Linked DNA regions of Homo sapiens. The protein of the gene in region 1 interacts with the protein of each later gene in a biochemical or structural test. Each region holds a gene or a part of one and is shown in the gene's direction. Other genes may lie near its edges.

Region 1 (7,026 bases):
AGGGTGAACCTGGGGACCACAGGAGTGGGTGTTGGAACACTTTGAACTAAGACTTTGGGTGTGGACGTTTGTATGTGGGGGGGGCTTGAGGGATGCCACAAAACCTAAAGGTAAAATTTTAGAATCAATCAGAAATGAAGCTAAATAGTCAAATAAAATCTATCGAGTGAGTGGTTGGGAAGGTAGGGTTCCGTTTACAAAACTTCTGTTTGTAATCAGAGCCTTTCAGACCACCAAGGCTTCTCTGGGCTCCTGGAAGAGTGCGTGTGTGTACACGCAGCCCGAGTAGGGGGCCTGGGCTGTGCCCCTGTTGTCTCCTCTTGGTGTTAAGGGTGGAGTTATACCTGGGAGTCTTCCTTCTGGGCTGGGAGTTCTGATAATGGTCTGACCATCTGGCCCCCCACCTCTGCTCCCTCCCCAGAGAGCCTCCCGGAGATCAGACTCAGCCTCCTCAGAGCCTGTTGGGATATATCAGGGTTTCGAGAAGAAGACCGGAGTTGCTGGGGAGGACATGCAAGGTGAAGCTGGGTCCATTGCCCCATTACGGTTTTTATTCCCCCTGAGGCCAAAGAAAGGGGACTGTCCTCCCTTCCATTGTCAAGTGAGACATGGAAGGAACCACCGGTCCTGGGGAGCGAGCCCCTTCCTCTCTGAGGCCCCTTCCCCCAGCCTACCCCAGGCCCCGGGGGAGGGGAGTTGTGTAGACTGAGACCCCGATCTGAGGAGGTGCCATCTCTCGGGCAGACAACAGTGGGACCTACGGCAAGATCTGGGAGGGCAGCAGCAAGTGCAACATCAACAACTTCATCTTCCACAAGGTCCTGGGCAAAGGCAGCTTCGGGAAGGTGAGGGCTGTGAGCCGGGCACCTGCTTCCCACCCCACCCTGGCTTCTTCCCGCTTAGGTGGCTGAGGTGGGAGTCTGTGAATCGGGCTGTGGCCCCTGCCCCGTCCTCACCTGCTCAGCACCCGTGTCTCCCCATCAGGTGCTGCTTGGAGAGCTGAAGGGCAGAGGAGAGTACTTTGCCATCAAGGCCCTCAAGAAGGATGTGGTCCTGATCGACGACGACGTGGAGTGCACCATGGTTGAGAAGCGGGTGCTGACACTTGCCGCAGAGAATCCCTTTCTCACCCACCTCATCTGCACCTTCCAGACCAAGGTGCCCGGGCCTCCTGCCGTCACCACCCCATGCCACAGCCATGTCCCACAGCTCCTCAGCCCCCCTCAGTCAGGGCTGTGTCTCCCCTTCAGGCCACTTAAGGCAGGGCCATGCTTTCCCCCCTCATGCCTCCCAGGGCAGAGTCGTCCACCTCAGCCAGGGCCTGTCCCTGCTGTTTCCTGTTGGGGCTTGGCCCCAGTGGCCCTCAGTGAGGGAGCCTCCTGCCTATTCCTCACCCCTGCTCACCACCCTTCCCACCCCAGGACCACCTGTTCTTTGTGATGGAGTTCCTCAACGGGGGGGACCTGATGTACCACATCCAGGACAAAGGCCGCTTTGAACTCTACCGTGCCACGTACGTAAGGGCCATGGTGGGGAAGGGCCCAGTGTGGAGGAAGGGCTACTGGCTCAGAGCCCACTTCCAGTCTGCCCTCCATGCCTTCTTCCCTCTCCCTAGAAAAGCCAGCCTGGGCTAGAGCGGCAACTGGGGAGATGTGGGGGTAGCCTGGGTCGGCACCACACAGGAAGCCATGGGTGGCAAGTGAACTGCGGCTGGGTGCGCAGCGCAAATACTCTGGGTCCTGGCCGCTCCGTGGGCCACAGCCAGGGCAGCCTTGCAAATGGTGGTCCTGCATGACACAGGACACAGGACCCTGGTGCGTGGCCCCCAGACCTGCTTCTCCCCATTCACATGCCCCTTACCCCAAACTAACCGTGTATGTGTGTGTGTGTGTGTGCATGCATGCAAACACATATGTACATGCATGTAAATGCATACACTCTTAGAGAATTGGCTCACTGAGAGCTTTCCCTTCAGAACTTTCTGCCTGGGCTGCCAGCCCCCACTTGCCTGATACAAGATGTACTTGATCATGCTCAGGTGGTCCATGGAGTTATTTGCAGCATTTCTTGCTCCTGGAAGTGGGGTTGAGGGCCCGAGGAGAAGCAGAGGCTGCTCGGCAGAGATCCCGGAACACTTTATCCCTCTCTCTTGCCCAGGTTTTATGCCGCTGAGATAATGTGTGGACTGCAGTTTCTACACAGCAAGGGCATCATTTACAGGTGCGGGGGTGAGGGCAGCGGGGGCTCTTGGGAGGGGAGGCTCCAGCCCCATCATATCTTCTGAAATGCTCCAAGCAGGATCCCCCCAACTCCAGTTCCTTCTCTGCTGGAAATCAATCTTTAGCTGGGTATTTGCCTATGCCTCCCACCCTGGTGTTAGCATTCCTGTGGCCACCATTTGAGGCTGGCTCAGCTTCAGGAACTAGGAACTCACTGCTCATATTTGACACCATCGCCCCACCCATCCTTGGAGCCGTCAGTCTCGCTCTGAAGCCCCATCGAGTCATCTAAGCTTCTGCCAGAAGGGACTCCTTCCATAAAGTCTCATCTAATAAGTTATGATTCCATCCTATGGTGGGAACTGTACACCCACCAAAAAGGCTGAGGTCAGGCTCTGTATACTGATGTGGGATAATGCCAAGATATGTTGTTAAGTGGAAAAACAACCTGTGGGAAAGTGTATATCGAATATTAGCATTCAGCCTTTAAAACGTGGGAGGGAGACTGAGCGCGATGGCTCACGCCTGTAATCCCAGCACTTTGGGAGGCCAAGGTGGGCAGATCACCCGAGGTCAGGAGTTCGAGACCAGCCTGACCAACATGGTGAAACCCTGTCTCTACTAAAAAATACAAAAGTTAGCTGGGCATGGTGGTGGATGCCTGTAATCTCAGCTACTCAGGAGGCTGAGGCAGGAGAATTGCTTGAACCCGGGAGGCGGAGGTTGCAGTGAGCTGAGATCATGCCACTGCACTCCAGCCTGTGTGACAGAATGAGACTGTGTCTCAAAAAAAAAAAAAAAAAAAAAAAAAAAGGTGGGAGCGAGCTGCATGCTGCCATATGCTTGTCCACGCCTAGAATTGCTCTAAGGAGAGCCTCATGATTGAGCTCAGTGGAAGGTAGACTTTGTACTGTTTGCCATTTCTAGTTCCCATATGCATTAAGTATATACTCAAATGACTAATTACTAAATATAGACATGGTCTCTGCCTGTGGGAAGTAGACAAACCTGAACCTGGGGGTCACTTCTGCTGCTGACTGCTAGGGGACCCTGGGCGAGTGACATCACCTGTTTGAGCCCCATTTGGGCTTCAGGAAGTAGGGCAGTGTATGCCCAGCGTTTAGCACACAGTAGGGGACTTGCAAGAAGCACCTGTTTTTAGGATCTCTTTCTCCTTCTGCTTCCTTTTCTGTTTCTCATTCCCTTGTACCCTTGGGGACAGTCCTGGACTAATACGGCTGAAAATTAGGACATGGGGGGCAGGGTTGGAAGGAGAAGAAATGTCCCCTGCTGACTCTTACCTGTCCCCTGTCCTTAGGGACCTCAAACTGGACAATGTGCTGCTGGACCGGGATGGCCACATCAAGATTGCCGACTTTGGGATGTGCAAAGAGAACATATTCGGGGAGAGCCGGGCCAGCACCTTCTGCGGCACCCCTGACTATATCGCCCCTGAGGTGAGCCGATACCCTTCCAGCCCCCCGCTCAGTCAGGCACCTTGCCTCCCCACGGTGGGCCAGGGAAGGATTCCCAAGGGCAGTGATGTCCAAGCCAAAGCCCATAGGCTGAGGCGGCCTGGCTAGGCTTCGTGCCCAGGGGCCCCTCTCAGCCTCAGCACCTCAGCTCCTGCTGACCTGCTGCTCTCCCCACCGCCAGATCCTACAGGGCCTGAAGTACACATTCTCTGTGGACTGGTGGTCTTTCGGGGTCCTTCTGTACGAGATGCTCATTGGCCAGTCCCCCTTCCATGGTGATGATGAGGATGAACTCTTCGAGTCCATCCGTGTGGACACGCCACATTATCCCCGCTGGATCACCAAGGAGTCCAAGGACATCCTGGAGAAGGTGGAGGCCCTGGGCTGGGCTGGGCTGGTCTGGGCTGGGCTGGGGCAGGGGCTGGCAGACACTGGGCTTTGGGTGAGGAGCTTCCTGTCTCTGGAATGGCAGCCTCAGTGGTGCTGCAGTCCTAACATACGGGGTATTGCTCTCTCACCATGTTCCCAGGAACTCCTGTCTGAGTCCTGTGCATAGAATCAGCCTGACATGGTGACTAAGGGCCCAGGGTCAGGAGACAGACCCGAGGCCAAATGCTGGCTCTGCCTGGGACTAGCTGGTCACTTAACCTCTCAGAGTTTGTCTCCTTATCTGTAAAATGGGGCTATGAGCAGACTTGACTCACAGAGTTGTTGGGAAGAAAATAGAAACATATGATGCTCAGCTGTGGGCCAGGCAGATAGTAAATAATAAAAAGTTCCACCAGCAGAGTCGCAGATGTCCAGCCCAGAGCCTGTCATCTCCGGGGGAGCTGGGAGCACTGCAGGCCAGAGTGGCCTCCCTCAGCCCCACCGTTCCCCAGGCTGACTGGGGCTGGGGCAAGCCTGGCTTTGCATCCCTGGGCCTGCTGGGGATTTGCTGAAGCTCCAATTTCCCATGGCCCTTGGGTGCTAACCAGGGTCCCTGCTGGGTTGCAGCTCTTTGAAAGGGAACCAACCAAGAGGCTGGGAGTGACCGGAAACATCAAAATCCACCCCTTCTTCAAGACCATAAACTGGACTCTGCTGGAAAAGCGGAGGTTGGAGCCACCTTTCAGGCCCAAAGTGGTATGTGATCCTGCCCTGTGCTGCCTTCAGGCTGAGCTACTCCTCTCCTGCCCTCCCTCTCTCCTGCATCATTCACACGCTTTCCACCTCTCCCTTCTTCCAGCAATCTCCATAGCATGTTCAGTCACAGCCGCTGCCCTTGTATTCTCATCCTCTCCCTCCTGACTCAGTCATTCAGCACACACTGGGGACTGTGGATCCCACTGTATGCAGAGGACCCTGTTTTGGGAAATAGAGTTAAGACCTCACTTTATCGCTCCATTCAATCCATTTTCCAATACATATGGGGAATCCTGAGTCCCTGTTGAATGCAGAGCACAGTGCTGGGCTGCACAGCAAAGTGGGAGATGCAGTCCCAGAACCGGAGGAGCTCTCAGCTAGTTGGAGAGATAAGAAACTTGCACACCTATGACAATTTGTGATACGAGATGACAGTATAAGAGATGCCCCAGGACACATGATCCGTTGCTATTGAGTGGGTCTGTCAGCAGGAACCCAGGTGGCAGAGAAGAGGGTGGGTCTGAGAGGCCCCGTTGGAAGAAGTGAGACAAGGGACAGCTGGGAGGCATTCCAGGTGGAAGAGGGGCTGGTTCACTCACAGGCCCAGAATCTACAGGGCTACCAAGGAACCAGCCTGAGAGCAGAGGCAGGTGGGGCCACTAAGAAATTTGGGGCTGTGTGGCCCCTCTGTGACCACAGTTCTTCCTTCCCACTCCCCTTCTGTCCTTTGATTCCCCTCCTCCACCAGGGCACACAGTTCCCACTGGGCAGCCTGTGTAATGCGCCCCACATTTGTGCTTTGAGGCTACAGAGCACTTCCCCTACACCAGGGACCTCAAACTCAGACGTGTCCTGGCTGAGCATGTAACTGACAGGCTAGGCCAGCTGCAAGAAAATCACACAGCCTGCTTTCAGTCTCACTTTTGATAGATTTCCTTCTCCGCACTAAGAAACACAAAGCAGGTGTGATGTACCCCTTGTCAGTGGGGCAGGGGCTGTCCAGGGGGCTCTTAGCACCAAGAGTGGGCAGGAAGTGGGCCCAGGGCTGCTTTAATCTGCCAGTTTTCAAAAGAAGCTGGAAATCTGGATTTTTAGGTTGCATTGCTCAATTTTAAAATATAAGTTCAGGCCGGGCACAGTGGCCCACACCAGCACTTTGGGAGGCTGAGGCAGGCAGATCACCTGAGGTCAGGAGTTCGAGACCAGCCTGGCCAACATGGTGAAACCCCGTCTCTACTACAAAAAATACAAAAAAAATTAGCCGGGTACGGTGGTGCACACCTGTAATCCCAGCTACTCAGGAGGCTGAGGCAGGAGAATCGCTTGAACCCAGGAGGTGGAGGTTGCAGTGAGCCGAGATCGTGCCACTGCACTCCAGCCTGGGCAAGAGAGTGAGACTCCATCTCTAAATGAATAAATAAATAAAAATAAATAAATAAAATATAGGTTCAAATTCCATTAAAACCCAGTACAAGCCGAAATGATTGTACTTGCCAGTTCAGTTTGGCTGAAGGGCCACCAGCTTGCGGTCTTTCTATATTACCATCCCATCATATCCTCAGGAGCAGAGAATCAGCAAATTTCTCCTGTAAACAGCCTGATAGTATATATTTTAGGCTTTTCAGGCTTGATGGTCTCAAAGCAGGCATAGACAGTATGTCAACAAATGGGCATGGTTGTGTATTACAAAAGCTTTATTTATGGAAAGTGAAATTTGAATTTCACCTAATTTTCATGTCATGAAATATTTTTCTTTTGATTTTTTTTCCAACCATTTAAAAATGTGAAAGCCATTCTTAGCTTGTGGTCCCCACAAAAACAGGTGGTAAGTGAGCCTCCCTGGGCTGTGATTCGGTGGTCTCTGAGCAAGAGGCTACCACCTCTCCTAACCCAGGCCCAGAGCTCCCTGGTCACTTTCCTCATCCTCTTGGGGAAATGGCAGCCTCCTTCCCATGGGGCTCCTTTCAGGCTGCTAGGGGAGGCTCTGTCTTCTGTTCTGGGTGAGGACAGCTCTGGCCTGGCCCAGCCCTGCAGGGACTCCAGCCTGGGGTGTCTGGAGGGCCATTCCCTAGGTCCTGTTCGCTCACCCCTGCCCTCTGCTTGTAGAAGTCACCCAGAGACTACAGTAACTTTGACCAGGAGTTCCTGAACGAGAAGGCGCGCCTCTCCTACAGCGACAAGAACCTCATCGACTCCATGGACCAGTC
Region 2 (7,026 bases), about 62 Mb from region 1:
GGTGGCTCACGCCTGTAATTCCAGCACTTTGGGAGGTGGAGGTGGGCGGATCACTGAGGTCAGGAGTTTGAGACCAGCCTGAACAACATGATGAAACCCCGTCTCTACAAAATACAAAACTTAGTCGAGTGTAGTGGCACATGCCTGTAATCCCAGCTATTTGGGAGGTCAAGGCAGGAGAATTGCTTGAACCTGGGAGGCGGAGGTTGCCGTGAGCTGAGACCACGCCATTGTACTCCAGCCTGGGTGACAGACTGAGACTCTATCTCAAAAAAAAAAAAAAAAAAAAAAAAAAAAAATGGCCAGTGATTCTGGAAGGTCCGAAAGACATTACTTTTCCCATACAATACTGTGGGAGAAAGATGAGGTTTGATTTGAACTTCCAGGGTACTGTTGAATTCTTAACTCCAAAAACAGTGCCTGGCACAAAATAAATCACTTAATAAATACTTGTTGAATGCTGAGATTTAAAGGAGAAGAATGTCATTGAAGCCCTCTCTTTTCCCTTCTTTTCTCGACAAAGGTTGAAAAAAATGATGACGACCAAAAGATTGAACAAGATGGTATCAAACCAGAAGATAAAGCTCATAAGGCCGCAACCAAAATTCAGGCTAGCTTCCGTGGACACATAACAAGGAAAAAGCTCAAAGGAGAGAAGAAGGATGATGTCCAAGCTGCTGAGGCTGAAGCTAATAAGAAGGATGAAGCCCCTGTTGCCGATGGGGTGGAGAAGAAGGGAGAAGGCACCACTACTGCCGAAGCAGCCCCAGCCACTGGCTCCAAGCCTGATGAGCCCGGCAAAGCAGGAGAAACTCCTTCCGAGGAGAAGAAGGGGGAGGGTGATGCTGCCACAGAGCAGGCAGCCCCCCAGGCTCCTGCATCCTCAGAGGAGAAGGCCGGCTCAGCTGAGACAGAAAGTGCCACTAAAGCTTCCACTGATAACTCGCCGTCCTCCAAGGCTGAAGATGCCCCAGCCAAGGAGGAGCCTAAACAAGCCGATGTGCCTGCTGCTGTCACTGCTGCTGCTGCCACCACCCCTGCCGCAGAGGATGCTGCTGCCAAGGCAACAGCCCAGCCTCCAACGGAGACTGGGGAGAGCAGCCAAGCTGAAGAGAACATAGGTGAGCAACCGCGAGGGTCAGATGCAATGGGTGGATGGGGAAGGGAGTTGCTATTCGGAAGACCAGGCCACCTGGGTCATTGAGGGAGAGGAAAAAGTCTAGAAGATGTTTTCCAGAAATCAAGGGAAGCTGTGCTTAATTTCCCAAAGTGGCAGGACTAAGAGCTAAGGTTACATTCCCAAATATCTCCAGAGAGGACTACCAGAGAGGACTCAGGCAGGTCTATGTAGCAGCCAGTACTAGAAAGATCTGGCAATTACCTTAATTGGATTGATATATGCAGTCAAACTAGATAAATCTGCTTTAAAAAAGTATTCTGTGTGCTGATAGACTTAGTTTAATAAGTAATTACTGAGGCTACATATATTTTATGGATGGGAATTAGCTAATGTGATTATTTGGCTCTAGAAAATGCCTGGTATAAATACAGCCATCCTCTTCTTGATCCAGATTATATAGTGTGTGAATTGTTGGCAGCAAAAGTATAATCTCAGACCACCCTTCCCTATCTCACATTATGTTTCTGGGCATTCTCTCCACCATCGGTTGGTGAGTAGTGTGTGTATATGTGGGTATGCTCAGAGAATGTTAATTGTAACATTAATTGGGGTCAAACATAATTAGGAAAATAAGTCTGTCGATGTTGCCAAAAACAAAAGAAAAACCCCAAATACAGAATATGTTGTGAAGTCAAACATAAATAATCATTTTATTATTGAAGACACGACTTTCTACAATATGCATAAATAATTGAGGGTTCCTATGATTACAAAAAGGTACTGGATTCTCTTCATTTTGGAGCTGTAACTTGAAAGTTGGAGGGTTTTCACTATTACTGCTCAATTGTGCAGAATTGGAATAGAATATTCCCAGAGCAAGATAAATTCAACAGAGTTTCGTCCCTGGAGACTAGATCCTTCCCTCACCCCAACACATCCACAGTGGTAAAGGAGGCCAACAGTTTCCATGATCTTTCTCTAGTCTAATATGACCGATAAATACTTTCCAGCCCCAAAGATCCTCAAAGATAAAGTTTCTTCTGTGTCCATTTAAAAGATTGGGTTTACTCCTTTAGAAGCGCCTCGGTTTAACCAATGATGTTTGTCATCCAAGGGTCCAAATACGGACTGAACCACCGTGTGCTCCTTGGGAGAAAACCTACTCCATGAGAGTGGTCTGAGGAATGTTTTGGCATCTGACCATCAGATTGAGAAAGTAATGACTGGACTTTTACCTTGATATACATTTCCCCAAAATCAGATACTACAATATGGTAGGTGACTATTCTAGATATTTTAGGTCTACTTCTTTCATCGTATCCCTAAAATTCTATGAATATGATGCCAGATTATATTAATTAACATTGTTATTGGCATATTCCAGCTCTGGATAAATCGTATGCTTCTTTTCATTTTGAATCTTTATTCTAACACACAACTGTCCCAGGGGCCAGACATTGAGGTTTAGAAGATGGGAATTTTTCCCTGGAAAAGGTAAGGCATGTGATAAAAAGTGGGGTGTGGGTTTTAATTTACTCAGCAAAGCAAAACTTAACTACTTTTCTTTAGATTTAAGGTTTGAGCCTCAGGTATGATGTCTGGAAATCACTTTGCATATCCACAAGTTACTTAATGTGTCATTTTCATACATCTTAGAAATTAATCATGCTTTTAAATACAGAACATATCTGACATGGCACAGACCATATTTTTTAACTGGGATTTCTAAAGTTGTGGGAAACAGAGAAATGATGTGATTTTAGGTATATGCTTATGATTTGGGTTGATAGAAGGATTTTTTGAATCAGTAGGAAGTCTAATATATAATATATTTTAAAAGAAATTAAGTTTTATTATGTTTCAGGTTATGATAACTAACTGCAAATGAATTAATGAAATATTTTATGTAGTAAGTTGTCAACAAATGTCAAATATTGAATATAAATTGATGAAATTTAAATTATAGATAATAATTTGTTCACTCATTTATATATTTCTCTTGCATATTTGCTTATTCTATTCATTTATTTGATTAAAAATGTGTCTGGTCAGTGAAAGCAAACAGCACTCTTCTCTGCCTTAAATGTTACAGATTCTGACAGAAAAATATCTTAATTAATCAGACTTTATCATGGGCATTCAAAGGTGATTGAAACAATAGGTGAAGTTCAACTTGAAGGTAATCACAAAGGGCAATTTACAGTGTTTCTTAGAGTTGGGTAGGTACTGTCCTCTTGGTTAGATTCAGAAATGCTGCCTGTCGTTTCTTTCTGGGTTGAGGTATCTAGTAGCCTTGCCTGCTCTTATGTGACAAGCACAAATTACTCCGCTGTGATGAATCTCATGGGATCACAGAAGGTAGAGGTGACAAGGAGATCTATCACATCATATCAGGTCCAAATTCCCAGGTGCCCTGTACTGCATTTCCTCTGCCTTCCACTGTATTTCATTTTAACCTGGGTTAAAGTAGCAGCATCTTCCACTGGGCTGTACTGTTCGGAAATGGGTGGCTACCATGGGTTGCTTTAGGATTCTACAGCTGCCTGGAGGGGCGTGGACAGACAATCTAAGAGGGTGCAACAGGGTTAAGGGGAAAAATAGGTACAAAGAGAAAATCTAAGAAAATAATTTCTGTGAATATCAGGCTTAAAAATTTTAGATATGATTATTACTTTAATACCTATGGAAATGTTGGGGGAACTATAAATGTTATTTATTTTACTTCTTTTACTATTTACTACCAACCTGTTTGTTATGGGGGGATGTCATTTGTATTTTGATCTTTGAAGTTGGTTGGTTATTGTCATTGTTTTAAATTCTCCAAGTATGTCCACCTCTCCCTAGTTTGCCACGCTGCCTGCCCAGCTTTTTACGTGCCTGGGACCAAAACATTTCAGCGCACCTCTGACAATGATTCCTTTAGAGGAAGAGGAGTGTTCAAAACATCTGTGGGACACTGCCCCATTCAGTCATGAGTAGAGAACTTTGAAGCCCCCTTTAGTGATTATATCCTTGGGGTCTCCTGCTGAGCAGTGTCACTGTGCTCATTGGCTCTCAATGAAGGAATTCTCTCTTACGTCTCCTCTTCTCCATGGTAGCCTATTGATTTTCCCCAGTAGAGGACTCTGCTGTGGTCATATTCAGTGATGTGGTACAACCAAGGTAACCTATCCAGAGGGCTATCAATCAGTGATATTGATTGGGTGGCTGCCACAGGGTCTTTGACTGATGCTAGTTGGAAGTGTAGCTCTGAGTGACTTTAAATGTTCTGTATGTTGATCTTGGCTGCATTTTATTTTCATGGTCTCAGTACATCTTGCAAATTGATGCCATCAGTAATGATCAAGAAAAGAGGGAGGAGTTTCCTATTGCCATTCCCTGAATAGAAAAATTAACTTAGTGTCTCCCTGCTTCTCTTCCTCCTCTTTTTTATCCTTCCTTCCTCCCTCCTTCCTTCCCATTCTGTCTCCTTCTTTTCTATTCTTCCTTTCTTTTTCCCTTCCCTTTATATTAACTTTCTTCTGTGCTAGGTATTGGAGTCACAAAGATGAATAAGATATGATTTTTTGTCCAGGTGCGGTGGCTCATGCCTGTAATCCCAGCACTTTGGGAGACCGAGGCAGGAGGACTTGAGTCCAGGAGTTTGAGACCAGCCTGGGCAACAGAAGGAGACCCCATCTCTACAAATAATAAATAATTAGCAGAGTGTGGTGGTGTGTGCCTGAGGTCCCAGCCACTCTGGAGGTTGAGGCAGGAAGATCACCTGAGCCCGGGAGGTCAAGGCTGCAGTGAGCCATTATTGTGTGCCATTGTACTCCAGCCTGGGTGACAGAGTGAGACCCTGTCTCAGAAAAAGTAAACCAAACCAAAACAAAAACAAGATGTACTCTTTTGACCTTAATGAATTCTTACTTGGTATGGGGGTAGTATGAAATTCAGGGAATGACATTGAAAACAATCATATTCATAATCTCAATTAAATTCTGCAGTTAGGTACAGGGCACTTCCCTATGCCAATGCACTTTGGACAAAATATGAATGAGGCAGTGCTTCAGGGGCTAAGATGCAGTCTGCTGCTTACTATAAAAACGTTGCATATAATGTATGTCCTGATACTCAAATTATTAACGAAAAGAATAGATGCAAAATTTAGAATTTCTAGAATGATAATTGTGTATAAGAAAATGAAATACCCAGCTCATATTTCTGAATTTAAAAAATTATTTATGTTTCCCAGAACAATATTTTCCCTAAGACCCAAGGTAACCATCTATTTTTCAGCTTTCCAAAAGATAGGTCCACTTCTACCAAGCTGTGTGTTAGATGTGAGATTTTCCAAGGATATTTACACTTATTTGGCAGGGTGCCTCGTGAGCGGCTTTGATTTGAAATGTGGTTTCAACCACTTCCTAAATTTATACACAACTCACAAAGAATGAAAATTTTGGTTGTGGAAGTCCATAAATGCTGTTTATAAAACATGGGCACCCTGTCAGATACTCAGTGGTATACCTCTTAAATACTGTTGATTATTAAGCTTTTATGGAGCACTTTTATATTGCTAGAGTAATCATTTTTATTGGCTTTTCTTGACAACAGCCCAATGTCATTTGATAATATTTTTCTTTCTATTTTTATATTCCAAGAATAGGGACAAAGTAAATGGATATTCTGGCCACAAATACAGCCAGTGACAAAATGAGGATCAAACTGATTGAACTCTAAATCCTCACCTTAACTGTAGCCCTACAGTTCTTTCTCTCTATTAAGGTGTTATGTTTTGTCTCAGTTTCTGCATTTTCTTTTTTATCTTAGCTGTTGTTGTGATCTGATGCTTTTGGGAAATACCAACCAGGACCTTACTAGGATATTCTCTGTCCTACCTGCCTTGTAATATAATGCAGGGAAAAGATCTTTGAACTGAAATAAAGAGACCAGGGTTCTAGTCTCAGTATTTCTACCAACCAGATTTTAGGCAAGTTATTGCTTCTCTGGACCTCATTCATCTCATCCTTAGGAAAAGGGACTACGATAGTTGGTTTTTAAGGTTTTCTTTCAAGAGTTAACATATAAAAGTCTAATAATAGGTAGCACTTAATGAGCATTTATTAACTGCCAGGTCCTGTGCTGAGTGCTATGTGGGGATTGTTCCATTTAATCATCATAACCACTCTGTGGTAGTAATGTAGTAGTGTAATTTTCCCTTCCCTTTTTACAAGGAGAAATCTTAGCTTTAGGGAGACTATGGGACTTAATCATTGTTGACAGCTAGCAATGTTGAACCAGAAGCCAAACCCTGAGAGTCTGAGAGGTCACATGCTGAACCCTGACACTTATCCAAGTGCTATTCTGGAAGAAACAAAGAGGAGAGGAATGTCTAAGGACCCCAACAATGTGTTATAATATAAGAACATCTCTCTTCTTTGGATAATTGGATATTCCAGACTCTTGTCTGGGAATTATTAGGGATAGCATTTACAGATGGGTGTCTAGTAACTACTATAATTCCTGATCATAATTCCCTCACAGCCCTATCACCCCAGAATTATTAGGGATATTAAACTGTTTCTGAGTCTTAGATTCTTATTTCAAAAATGCTCCAAGTACTGTTTTATTAGACCTGAGAGAGCTATAAAGATCAGCTGAAAATGATTGTTCTTAACAGATGTATTACTGACTCCATCAAATACATCAGTTATGCCAGGAGGATCTGAAAACTAGAAATGGAAATTTTCATATCTCAATCAGATGAAAGTCATTTTATTTATTGTAGGCAATTGCTACCCTAAGTTTAGCTTATCAGAATCAGTATCTTTTTTATATTCTTGCTTAGGTCTACCCCCCTTTGGCAAGTGCATTTCCAAAGGATCTGGTACCTTTATAACTAAAATATTAAAGAACTTAAT

Evidence for each region.
Region 2: of the proteins of PRKCD (region 1) and GAP43, one has a biochemical effect on the other in vitro, tested with the Homo sapiens proteins (one study listed by IntAct).

Annotation. Positions count from the first base shown.
Region 1 is NC_000003.12:53,185,183-53,192,208, forward strand, and holds part of PRKCD (protein kinase C delta type), read left to right. Parts: intron 1-421; coding exon 422-518; intron 519-744; coding exon 745-845; intron 846-984; coding exon 985-1,158; intron 1,159-1,421; coding exon 1,422-1,513; intron 1,514-2,157; coding exon 2,158-2,220; intron 2,221-3,537; coding exon 3,538-3,676; intron 3,677-3,875; coding exon 3,876-4,064; intron 4,065-4,690; coding exon 4,691-4,819; intron 4,820-6,925; coding exon 6,926-7,026.
Region 2 is NC_000003.12:115,675,490-115,682,515, forward strand, and holds part of GAP43 (neuromodulin), read left to right. Parts: intron 1-523; coding exon 524-1,121; intron 1,122-7,026. UniProt on the Homo sapiens protein: This protein is associated with nerve growth. It is a major component of the motile 'growth cones' that form the tips of elongating axons. Plays a role in axonal and dendritic filopodia induction.